Linked DNA regions of Homo sapiens: region 1 is linked to region 2. Evidence: fine-mapped expression QTL. A gene starts in region 2. The other region holds a variant in brackets. All regions are shown on one strand. Distances are between the middles of the regions.

Region 1 (5,387 bases), 140 kb before region 2:
TCCACCCTCAGAGACCCTGGCTCAGTAGTTTTGTGTGTAACCTAGGAAATTGTATTTCTTAACCGCCTCTGCAGGTGGATCTGATGGTCCAGGTACCATAATTGGGAAACACTGACTCTGAAAAATTCATGTCTGTTCTTAAATTCAGGGCTTATATTTCCCCCTCTAGTTTGTAAACTCCTTGATTCTTTTTTTCTTTTGTAGGGAAACTCTTTCTATTTTTCTTTAATTTCTGTGGGTACATAGTAGGTATATATATTTATGGGGTACATGAGATGTTTTTATACAGGTATGCTATATGAAATAAGCACATCATGGAGAAGGGGTATCTATCCCTTCAAGCATTTATCCTTTGAGTTACAAGCAATCCAATTATACTCTTTAAATTATTTTAAAATGTACCATTATTATTGACTATAGTCACCCTATTGTGCTATCAAATAGTAGGTCTTATTAATTCTTCTATTGTTTGCCACCCTTTACCATTCCCATCCACCCCCTCCCACTTGCCTTCCCAGCCTCTGGTAACCATCCTTCTACTCTTTATGTCCATGAGTTCAATTGTTTTGATTTTTGTACCTGACAAATAAGTGAAAACATGCAATGTTTGTCTTTCTGTGCCTGGTTCATTTCACTTAGCATAATGACCTCCATTTCCATCCATGTTGTTGCAAATGACTGAATCCCATTCTTTTTGATGGCTGAGTAGTACTCCATTGTGTATATGTACCACATTTTCTTTATCCATTCATCTATTGATGGACACTTAGGTGGCTTCCAAATCTTAGCTAGTGTGAGCAGTACTGCAACAAATATGGGAGTGCAGATACCTCTTTGAGATACTGATTTCCTTTTTGTTGGGTATATACCTTGCAGTGGGACTGCTGGATCATATGGTATTTCTTTCTTTTTTTTTTTTTCTCAGACAGAGTCTCACTCTGTCACCCAGGCTGGAGTGCAGTGGCACAATCTTGGCTCACTACAACCTTCACCTTCTGAGTTCAAGTGATTCTCTTGCCTCAGCCTCCTGAGTAGCTGGGATTACAAGTATGCACCACCATGTCTGGCCAATTTTTGTATTTTTAGTAGAGATGGGGTTTCGCTACGTTGGCCAGGCTGATCTTGAACTCCCGACCTCCAGTGATCCACCCGTCTCAGCCTCCCAAAGTGCTGGGATTACAGGCATGAGCCACCACACCTGGCCCATATGGTATTTCTATTGTTTTTTGAGGAACATGCAAACTGTTCTCCGTAGTGGTTGTACTAATTTACATTCCTACCAACAGCATATGAGGGTTCCTTTTGCTCCACATCATTGACAACATTTTTTATTGCCTATCTTTTGGATATAAGCCATTTTAACTGGGGTGAAATAATATCTCATTGTAGTTTTGATTTGCATGTCTAATGATCAGTGATGTTGAGCACCTTTTTATATGCCTGTTTGTCTTTTGTATGTCTTCTTTTGAGAAATGGTTATTCAAATATTTTGCTCATTTTTTGATCGGATTATTATACTTTTTACTGTATAGTTGTTTGAGCTCCTTATGTATTCTGGTTATTAATCCTTTATCAGATAGGTTGTTTGCAAATATTTTCCCCCATTCTGTGGCTTGTCTCTTCACTTTGTTGATTGTATCCTTTGCTGTGTAGAAGCTTTTTAACTTGATGTGATCCCATTTGTCCATTCTTGCTTTGGTTGCCTGTGCTTGTGGGGTATTGCTCAATAAATTTTTGCCCAGACCAACGTCCTGGAGATTTTCCCAAATGTTTTCTTGTAGTAGTTTCATAGTTTGAAGTCTTAGATCTAAGTCTTTAATCCATTTTGATTTGATTTTTGTATATGGAGAGAGATAGAGGTCTAGTTTCATTCTGCTGTATCTGGATATCGTTTTCCCAACACCATTTATTGAAGAGGCTGTCTTTTCTGCAGTGTATATTCTTGGCACCTTTGTCAAAAGAGTTCACTGTAGGTGTGTGGATTTTTTTCTGAGTTCTCTATTCTGTTCTATTGGTCTGTGTGTCTGTTTTTATGCTGGTACCATGCTATTTTGGTTACCATAGCTTTGTAGTATAATTTGAAGTCAAGTAATGTGATTCCTCCAGTTTTATTCTTTTTTGCTCAGGTTAGCTTTGGCTATTCTCAGTCTTTTGCGGTTCCAAATAAATTTTAGGATTGTTTTTTTCTATTTCTATGAATAATGTTACTGATATTTTGATAAGGATTGCACTGAATCTGTACACTGCTTTGGATGGTAGTATGGACATTTTAACAATATTGATTCTTCTAATCCATGAACATGGAATACTTTTCTAGTTTTTGGTGTCCTCTTCAATTTCATTCATCAGTGTTTTATAGTTTTCATTATAGAGATCTTTCACTTCTCTGGTCAAGTTAATTCCTAGGTATTTAATTTTATGTGTGGCTATTTTAAAGGCTTTTTAAAAAATTTCTTTGTAAACTCCTTGATTCTTATTCATCTCTTTATGCCTGACAGTATGCCATTCATTGAAAAGACTCAAATTTTGCTTATTGAATTAAAATTAATTCCTGTAAGATCAGTAATAGAACTATTACTACAATAGAATGGAAGCCTGATTCCTGAAGTTTGTATGACTGTGATGAGAGATAGCAGATAGCGACTGCTAAACGAGGACACAAGTGTTTCCTGAGTCCTCTATATTAACTGCCAGTGGGAGCTTGAAGTAATGTAATTTCTCCAGTCTTTATAGCAGACCTTCTATTTTTATAATAATGACAAGACTGAAGGGACAAGATGAAATGGTGCAAATGGAACCTGGATAAGCACCAGCTCTTCTAAAAAAA[A/T]TTTTCTTTTTGGTGTGTTTGTTGCTAATGTGAGAGATTAAAGTAAGAAAAATAGATGAAATCAAAATGAGTAAAGAAAAAACAGAATTTCAGAAATTTCATTGAAAGCCCACCAATAAAGAACAATATAATTATTTTAAATTCTAAGAGCTTATCCTGTTTCTTCTCATTGCATAAACTCATATTCTCTACTTGATGGCACAAGACTGAGAGGTAAATAGTTGGAAAGCTGCTCACCATCATCAAAACTCAAGCAGAGGGATTGCTGTTGATCCATTTTAGGAAACCTTGTTCTTTACAAGAGTAGGACACATTTCTGTGGTCACTGAAAGATACAGCTGAAAGGTGATCTAAGCATTTCAGATTGGAAACTTTGGGAGTGTTCCATTGACTTGCCATTACACAGGCAAGTATTTCTCTCCTTAATTTGTTTTTAAACATAAGATACTCTTCTAATTATATGAATAGTTACTTGTAGCCCAGAGGCAACAGAGAAACTGCAAACTCTTAAGTAAGAAAATTCAGCAGAAAGAGAAAACCAGAAAAAAAAATTTGTCTGGTTTAAATAAACTCCTTGGGTATGACTTCTGTAGTCAGACATCAAGACTGCATTTTTATTAGAAGTAGGAATTGGGGTGGGGGCATTACATTTATATAATGCTTTTGAAACAATCCAGAGGCCTTTAACATGGTCTCTTACAATGAACTAGTTAGCCACATGACCTCATTTTGTAAGTATCCACAGGAGATTTGCCCTCTACTTCCTGGGGCTCATTGAAGGTAATCTAATCTTTTCTAATCATGAGAATCTTTGATCTTTAATCATTTTACTACGTCTTTCTCTTCAAAAAGTCTTTCTCTTCAAAAATAACTACATTATGTAGTCCCAATAACCCACCAAAATTTGCTTAATTTTTTTTGGAAAATAAATGAGTAAGGTTGCTTAAACTAAGGGGCAATCTCTGTGGAATATTTGGTGTCCCAAGGTGAAAGAGACACTGTAATTTTTTTTAGAGAATTTTTAGAGTGCTGAGTAAAAACAAATCAATGAATTCTGCAAATTAGCTTTAAGTTGAAAACAAACACAAATAAGTTCGTTAATTTAAGCAAAAACCATTATACCCAATGTACAGATTAACAAAAATTCACAAAATGTTAAAATTGTTGCTAGTTCACTAGTAACTCTCATAAGATGTAAAGGATTAATCTAGACGTTTTTAGTGCTTTAGCGAAGACCGTTTCTATAACTCCATAAGGCAGCATGGTGTAGTAGTATGGCTGTCAACTTTCGGCATATAGCAGGGTTGCCCAGGAAGTTGCTCAAACAAACAAACCTATGTCCTGACCCTGAAGATTCTCATTCAACAGTTATTAGTCCAAGCTTGGGCATCTATCTTTTCTTTGAACATGGTCTCTAGTAATTCTGATATACCCTGAAGTTGAGAACCATTGGTGTATTGGAAAGAGCTCAGGCCCTTAGGAGTCATGAAATATTATATTTGAATTCTGATTCTGCCATTGATTTGCTATGTGACTGGGGGAAGTTACTTACCTCTCTGGGTCATTGTGTTTTTGCATATTTATCTAAAATGCCAACCACCTGACTATCGTATTCTGTGACCTCAGAGAATTAAGCATATATTATGCTGTTCTTAAAGACAATTTTGCATTTAAAATCGTATTCTGTGACCTCAGAGAATTAAGCATATATTTTGCTGTTCTTAAAGACAATTTTGCACTTAAAATCGTATTCTGTGACCTCAGAGATTTAAGCATATATTATGCTATTCTTAAAGACAATTTTGTATTTAACAAAATTTTAGTTCACTTTACATAATATTCTACAATAAATGCTAAAGGCAACACAGTGCTTGATTCATCATCTGGTTATGTTTTCTTTTCCCCACACCAAAGATCAATTTCACAGTCCTTTGAGAATTGTTTCTTGCATCTGGGCAGGAAAAGAGCTAGGGTGGCTAGGAAGATGGAGACCAAACTTAAGATTATTTCTACTCTCCAACAGAACTGGTGGCATCTCTGCATTATCCATGCTAGAGGATGGAAAAAACACTGATATTAACTCAGAAATGGCAAGCAATAGTTTCACTTTCCTCATGATATTGTCATCGAGGAAGAAATTTCCTAGGGGAGGCAATGCAGTACAATAGGGAAAGTATGGACTTAGAGATTAGAGACCTGCATTCCAATTTTGCTGTATCACTTGGCACAAATTACATAACCTTGGAGAGATGACAACTGTATCTCATCTGTGATGTAGGAATAGGCATACTGCAGAGATTTCTGAGGATTCGTGTAATGAAAGTCAGATGTTTGTCATAGTGCCCACCGCTTTGTAGTTCCCTAATAATAGGAAAATTCCCTTTCTACTTCCACAGCAATACTCCATTTCCAAAAACTGCTGATCAGAAAGCTGTGTTGTGTGTGTGTGTATGTGTGTGTGTGTGTGTGTGTGTGTCTGTGTGTGTGTTGGGTCATGCCAACGTTTCTGATTTTATCCTGTGATCCAGATACTTCTAAGAACAAAATGTATGCCAAAATC
Region 2 (5,387 bases):
TTAGAAGACCTTAATAAAGGAGTTTGATCAATTCCCTTTCACACTATTTTATTCCTCAGTGGTTCTGAGTGTATTGCCATCATGCTAACAAGGACAGCTGGAATAAAGATAAGTTTTGAGGTCAGAGAGTAGTTAAGGGAGGAGTCTGGGGACAGAGGACTTGCCTGTTTTCTCAGTTCCTCTTTAAGAGGCACCAGAGTTACAAAAGGTCACTAGGTGTATTTGGCAAGAGACTAGGTGTACTTTAAATTGATTTGGCATTTCCTAGGATATTTTAAAGGATGACTTGATCAAACTTTTGAACTTACAGATTTTTTAAATTAAATGAAACAAAAAGGATTACCCCCTCAAAAAATTTCAGTCATTGGCTCATTTTCTCACCGTTCGACGTTTGGATGAATTAGACCCAAACATTAATTTAATTCAATAACTACCTTTGGGATCCAAGAAGTTATTCTGCACCTTTAGTTGAAAATTCTAATTTTGTCCAAATAATGATATTTCAGGAGTATTTAACACACTGAATACTTGCCTACTTTTTGTTTTATTTTCCACCAAACTATAAGGGTCAGAAAGGTTCTACAGTCTTTTCAGTGTGCTCAATCAACCTTCCTCAAGCTACTTCTGAAAAATGGAGGGCAAAGTTTAACCCTTCAACAACAGCATATTTTTTAGAAAAGAACTATTCAAAGCAAGTAGACATTTTTTACAATTATTACCTCTTTTTACTTAGAGATAGTACAACCTTGAAAATAAAGAAAGTAGAAGGTGTCATCTGTTGTCTTTATTTTGTCAATGAGGAAACTGAAATGTAGGAAGACTGAATGACATGTCCAAGAGCACCTAAGTGAGCAGCAGATAAATTTCAGGTTTGTACTGGAGAACTCACCGTAAATGTGGGATTGCTGTTCAAACACTGTTATTTGGTTAGTTTTAGACCAAGTTTGTCAGCCTGGGGTCAGGATATAATTTGTAGGACCCAGTTCAAAATGAAGATCCAGAGCCTCTTTGAAAATTATTAAGCCAGCAGACGGTGATAGCAGAACATTACCAAACGCAGGGCCCTTCCAAGTGCAAGGCCCTGTGCGGTTGCAGTTTTGTATTTCCATGAAGCTGGCCCTGCCTGGAGCCTCTGGACATCTAGAATGTAGGAGGCTGGGCATCAAGGAGGCCATGAACTCCTGAAATTGTAGGTGGAATTTTGTGTTAATATGTATGCATTTGTCTTTCATATTCCATAGCTTTCATCAGATTCTCAAATTGGTCTGTTACCCTCTTCAAAGGTAATACATGTTCCAACAGAGCCTACAATGTCAGAATATATTGGTAGGGACAAGCATGCTGGTGGTCACTGTGCATGATCCTTCACAAGGCTATATTTGTGAATAAGTAAGTTTTCATGAGTGCATGGGAATTAATGCAAAATCAAGGAATTCTTAACACTGATGAGACGTTGCCAGAAACAAATGCACTCAAGAATGCTTCTTCCTCAGGAGATAGGAAAGCAGATGGTGAGATGGTCAAGATGATCATATGCTTTATAAACCCCAAAGTGATACCCTAATATAAGCCATTTTATTTATTTTCAACCTCTCCCTCTTCCTCTGTAACTGGATGTCACATTTTAGCTTCCTTTAAGGAAAGCATATTTTCATTTACTTTAATTTCTCTAATAGCTGTATGATTTACCAACTCATGGTGATTTACATCTCTTTTATAGATAATTATAGCCCAATGTTAGAAATAGGAGTAAGTGAGGAATTTGTTAATACAGCAGGGGCAGAAGCAGCCCTCAGAATTAGGAAAAGAGTACTGTAAAGACGTGGATCCTGAGAAATACTACCGATGAAATATTGACACACGCGTCGGCCTGGTAAAAACCTCATGCCCATCTCCTAGAAGTCTCACACACAAATATCCCTTCTGCGGAAATGCCTGCTCTTGCAGTTTAGGTGGCTGCCTTAAGTTTTTATTTAGTCCCTTGCCCCCCTTTCTAAATTTTGGACTAACTACACCTGTCAGTCAAATCTCCAGCTCTTATAAATGGGAATATACAGAGATGGGTAATTGAAACCACGGGGTAATTCTCAAATTTCCATTTGCCCAGTGTCAAATTTCTCTCAACCTAGCAAACAGAAAAGCACGATCTACCTGAATTCCCTGGTCACTTTTCTGACCCTACTCTGTCCTTGCTCATCACATAATGGGGGCACTTTACGTGATTCAACGAGTGGCCAAACTCTTGCAGATCCAGCGATAACCTTGGTTGCTCACACCACATAACTCAACCGTGGAAGAAATGGTGCCACCGCTGGCAGGTGAGACGCCTTCCTCTGGTTTGTAGGATACGATTGGGCATGAATTGTTTTAATAGACTGAGACTGCCCCGCGGGTAATTCTACTTGCTAGGAGTGTTGAGCAGCCTTCCTGCAAGCCATCTACTCCAGTTGGGAGTCTGCTGGCACCTGCTCCCCTGCACACCCCCAGGATGCCCAGGCCGCAGGAAGATGTCTAAAACTTCCTACAGGGGCAAAGCCCGCCCTGGCCTCACCAGTCGCCCCAGCGCGCGTCAGCCACGACCCCGGCGAGGCCCAGGTGGGAGGGTAGGGACGTGCGCAGCCTGGGGTGGGGCTGGGGGCTGGCGAGGACCTGCTCCGGGGACCAGGACTGGGCGCCCTGGCGGTCCCAGGCACCGGGAGGGGACCTAGGACCGCTGCCGTTTCACACGTGGCCCCGGCATTTTCGCGCTCTCTCCAGGAATAGCCCCAAGGGCCCAGGAGGCCTGGGTGGGACTCGGCCCCGCGCCTCTCTTCCCGGGTCCCCAGTCCCCAAGGCGCGGCCCCCCACATTAACCTTGCTGGGTCCTTCCCGGCTTTCTGCCCTTTGCAACCCCCGCGCGCCCCACCTTGGCGGGCTCCGCCGACGCCAACCGCGCGTAAACGGCCGGTGACGATTGGGGTGCAGCCGGGGGCAGCTTCAGGGGGCAGAGCCTCCGCAAATGCTTCTCTCCTCCCACCCGGCCTCACACCCACCCTCCTCGAGGTCCCGCCGGGAACCGCCCCGCCCTGCGAACCCAGCCGAGCCCTCCCTCCTGGGCCACCCCCAGTCCGGTCTCTGCTTTTGGAGCGCGTGGGCTCTGCGAGCGCCAGGGCTGGGGACCCTGGAATACCTGTTCCTCCAGCACGAGGATGGGGTCCAACTAGTGGTCCTCTAAATCCTGCTCCTTCCCCGAGGCTACGGGAAGCGCTCCAGCCACAAGGAAACGGCTCCAGTCTTTCGGCTCCCAAACGTGACACTCTATATATCCGGCTCGGAGACTGGGTGTGGGGCGGGAGGAAACCACCCTCCCTCCGACCTTCCCCGGCTCCGCCGCTGCCTCGGCACTGGGCGCGAAACCGGCGGCAGCCTCAGCCCGGGGCGGGAGGAGGGTGAGGGGCCAGCGAAGGCCCTACAGGTCGCGGGGGCGACAGCATCGTGGGCAGGGCGGCCGCGCGCGCAGGCCCGCCCCGCGCTTCCATTCGTTCAGCACCAGCGGATCCACTGGCTATGACTCCCGCATTTGTGTGGTTTGGGGGAGGGGAGTTGGTTTTGGTTTCGGTGGGTTTGGTTTGTTTGTTTGTTTGGGGCTTTTGTTTTGTTTTGTTTTGGGTTTTGGGGTTGGTTTTTTTCTCCATTTTTTAATCAGTGGGCGAGGGGACAAGGAAGCTAGAAAGGCGCCCCTCTCTGGTGTGGGAAAGGAGAACTCCCACACCGTGAAAGGTGGCGGGGTAGGGGGGTGGAGGGAGAGACCGAGACAGGAGAGAGATTCAAAGGTTCTAGTCTGAACTGAACGCTTGGGGGACATACCTTTCCCCACCCACCCTAGCAGAAAAGGCAGCCAAAAATCCCAGTTTACTCAGCTTGACTACACTGCACATCCCGTGGGAGGGATGCTCTTGTATCTGCTAAAGACATTGCGGAGGCGCCCTGCAGTGACCCACGAACGCAGTGGCTTTTTAAAACCCAAGGGCGTGAGGGTGGAGGGTGATGCGAGGACTTCAGGTGAGGCTTCCTCACACTCGGGGTTTGAAGGGCAGAAATCCGGCTCTGCCTGCCTATGGTGGGGTGGGGGTGGGTAGGAGACTAGAAAGGATCAGAGATGGGGGCCGCAGAAACAGCAGTGAGCCAGCTGTGCTCAGCAGCACTTCTCCGGACTTAAAAGAAAAAAAGATGTTTCATTTCTTAGCCTGGTAGCTTTTTTGGGATTTGGTCATTGTTAAATTTTAAACGGAAAAACAAGCTGCCAGGGAAGCCTTGTAGAGGGATGGACAGGCACGTGAGTGGAGCCCTTGGCCTCAACCAGGAAGTGCTGAAAAACGGCCAACGCCCATCCTAATTCCCTGGACAATGTAGGAGGTAAATTTCCAAATAAATATGGTGTGTTAAGAAAAATAGAAAAGAAATATTGTCCTATAAGCTGTTCTGATTCTCCTCATTATAACAATCCACATGCAATTAAAGAAATAAAATTTGACTTTTGAAAGTTAGAATTAAGGAGTGATTTCATGAAATTAAAATAATAACACCCATCTTGAATTCTCTACTACTGGGCTCTTTAATGAAATGTGTTAAGCTAAGTGTAGCCTAAAGGCACTGACTAATTTCCTCTGGTGACCGCCTGAATGCAAGAGACAGAAAAAAAGTTACAACCAAATTTATAGTATTTTTCGTTACCCCTCCCCTCCTCAAGAATAAATTTGAATGTATCTTCAAAATGTGTGTGACAGCACTTCAAATGATAATGTCAAATGCTGGTGAAAACGTATAGAAATCACTTAACAGATAGCAGATGGAAGGTAAATTGTAATCACGCTTTTGTTGGAAAGCAATTTAGCAACACATTCCCAAGGTGTTCAGTAACGAAATTTTTTCTTGTTCTGGACCTAGATTCCCATGTCTTACAATGTATTCAAAGGAGATAATCCATAAAAGAGAAATGCCGCATGTACATAGTTGCATATTTATTACCGAGTTGTTTATAAAGTAGGAAATTAAAAGCATACTTTCAGTGGGATGTTCATAGATAAAATACAACATTAATTATAGATTACAAAACCACAATTTGATTATCACCATTTAAAACGCTATTCATATATGTAGAATGTATTAGTTTGCTAAGGCTGTCATAAGGATGCACATAAACTGGGTGGATTAAACTATAGAAATGTATTATTTCATAATTCTGGAGGCTAGAAGACCAAGATCAAGATGTCTGCAGGGTTGGTTCCTTATGAGGGCTTTGAGAGAGAATTTTCCATGATGCTTACCTACTTCCAGTGGTTTCTTGTTGGCTTGTAGACACATGACCCCTGTCTCCTATAATCTTCATATGGCATTCTCCCTATGTT

Alleles and levels. Positions count from the first base shown, and alleles are read on the strand shown. Sizes are in standard deviations (SD) of each study's normalised expression.
For the expression in iPS cells of the gene that starts at base 3,299 in region 2, allele T in region 1 goes with a higher level than allele A (small effect, 0.40 SD a copy in HipSci).

The links. PIP is the estimated chance that this variant, and not a neighbour inherited with it, causes the effect.
Region 1: its variant is the best candidate, but not a certain one, in a credible set for the expression of FAR2 in iPS cells (HipSci, PIP 0.73).

The regions. Positions count from the first base shown.
Region 1 is chr12:29,285,981-29,291,367 of GRCh38, reverse strand. The region is part of intron 2 of FAR2 (fatty acyl-CoA reductase 2); the gene reads right to left. All of the region lies in intron 5 of FAR2-AS1 (FAR2 antisense RNA 1), which reads left to right. Among named protein-coding and RNA genes, the nearest start is that of FAR2-AS1, 29 kb to the left of the region's middle. The variant A/T (reference allele first, on the strand shown) is at 2,828.
Region 2 is chr12:29,147,190-29,152,576 of GRCh38, reverse strand. It overlaps FAR2 (fatty acyl-CoA reductase 2), which reads right to left and starts at 3,299. Exons shown (of 12, transcript NM_001271783.2): 1 at 3,170-3,299. RefSeq lists silencers at 2,932-3,081, 3,392-3,451.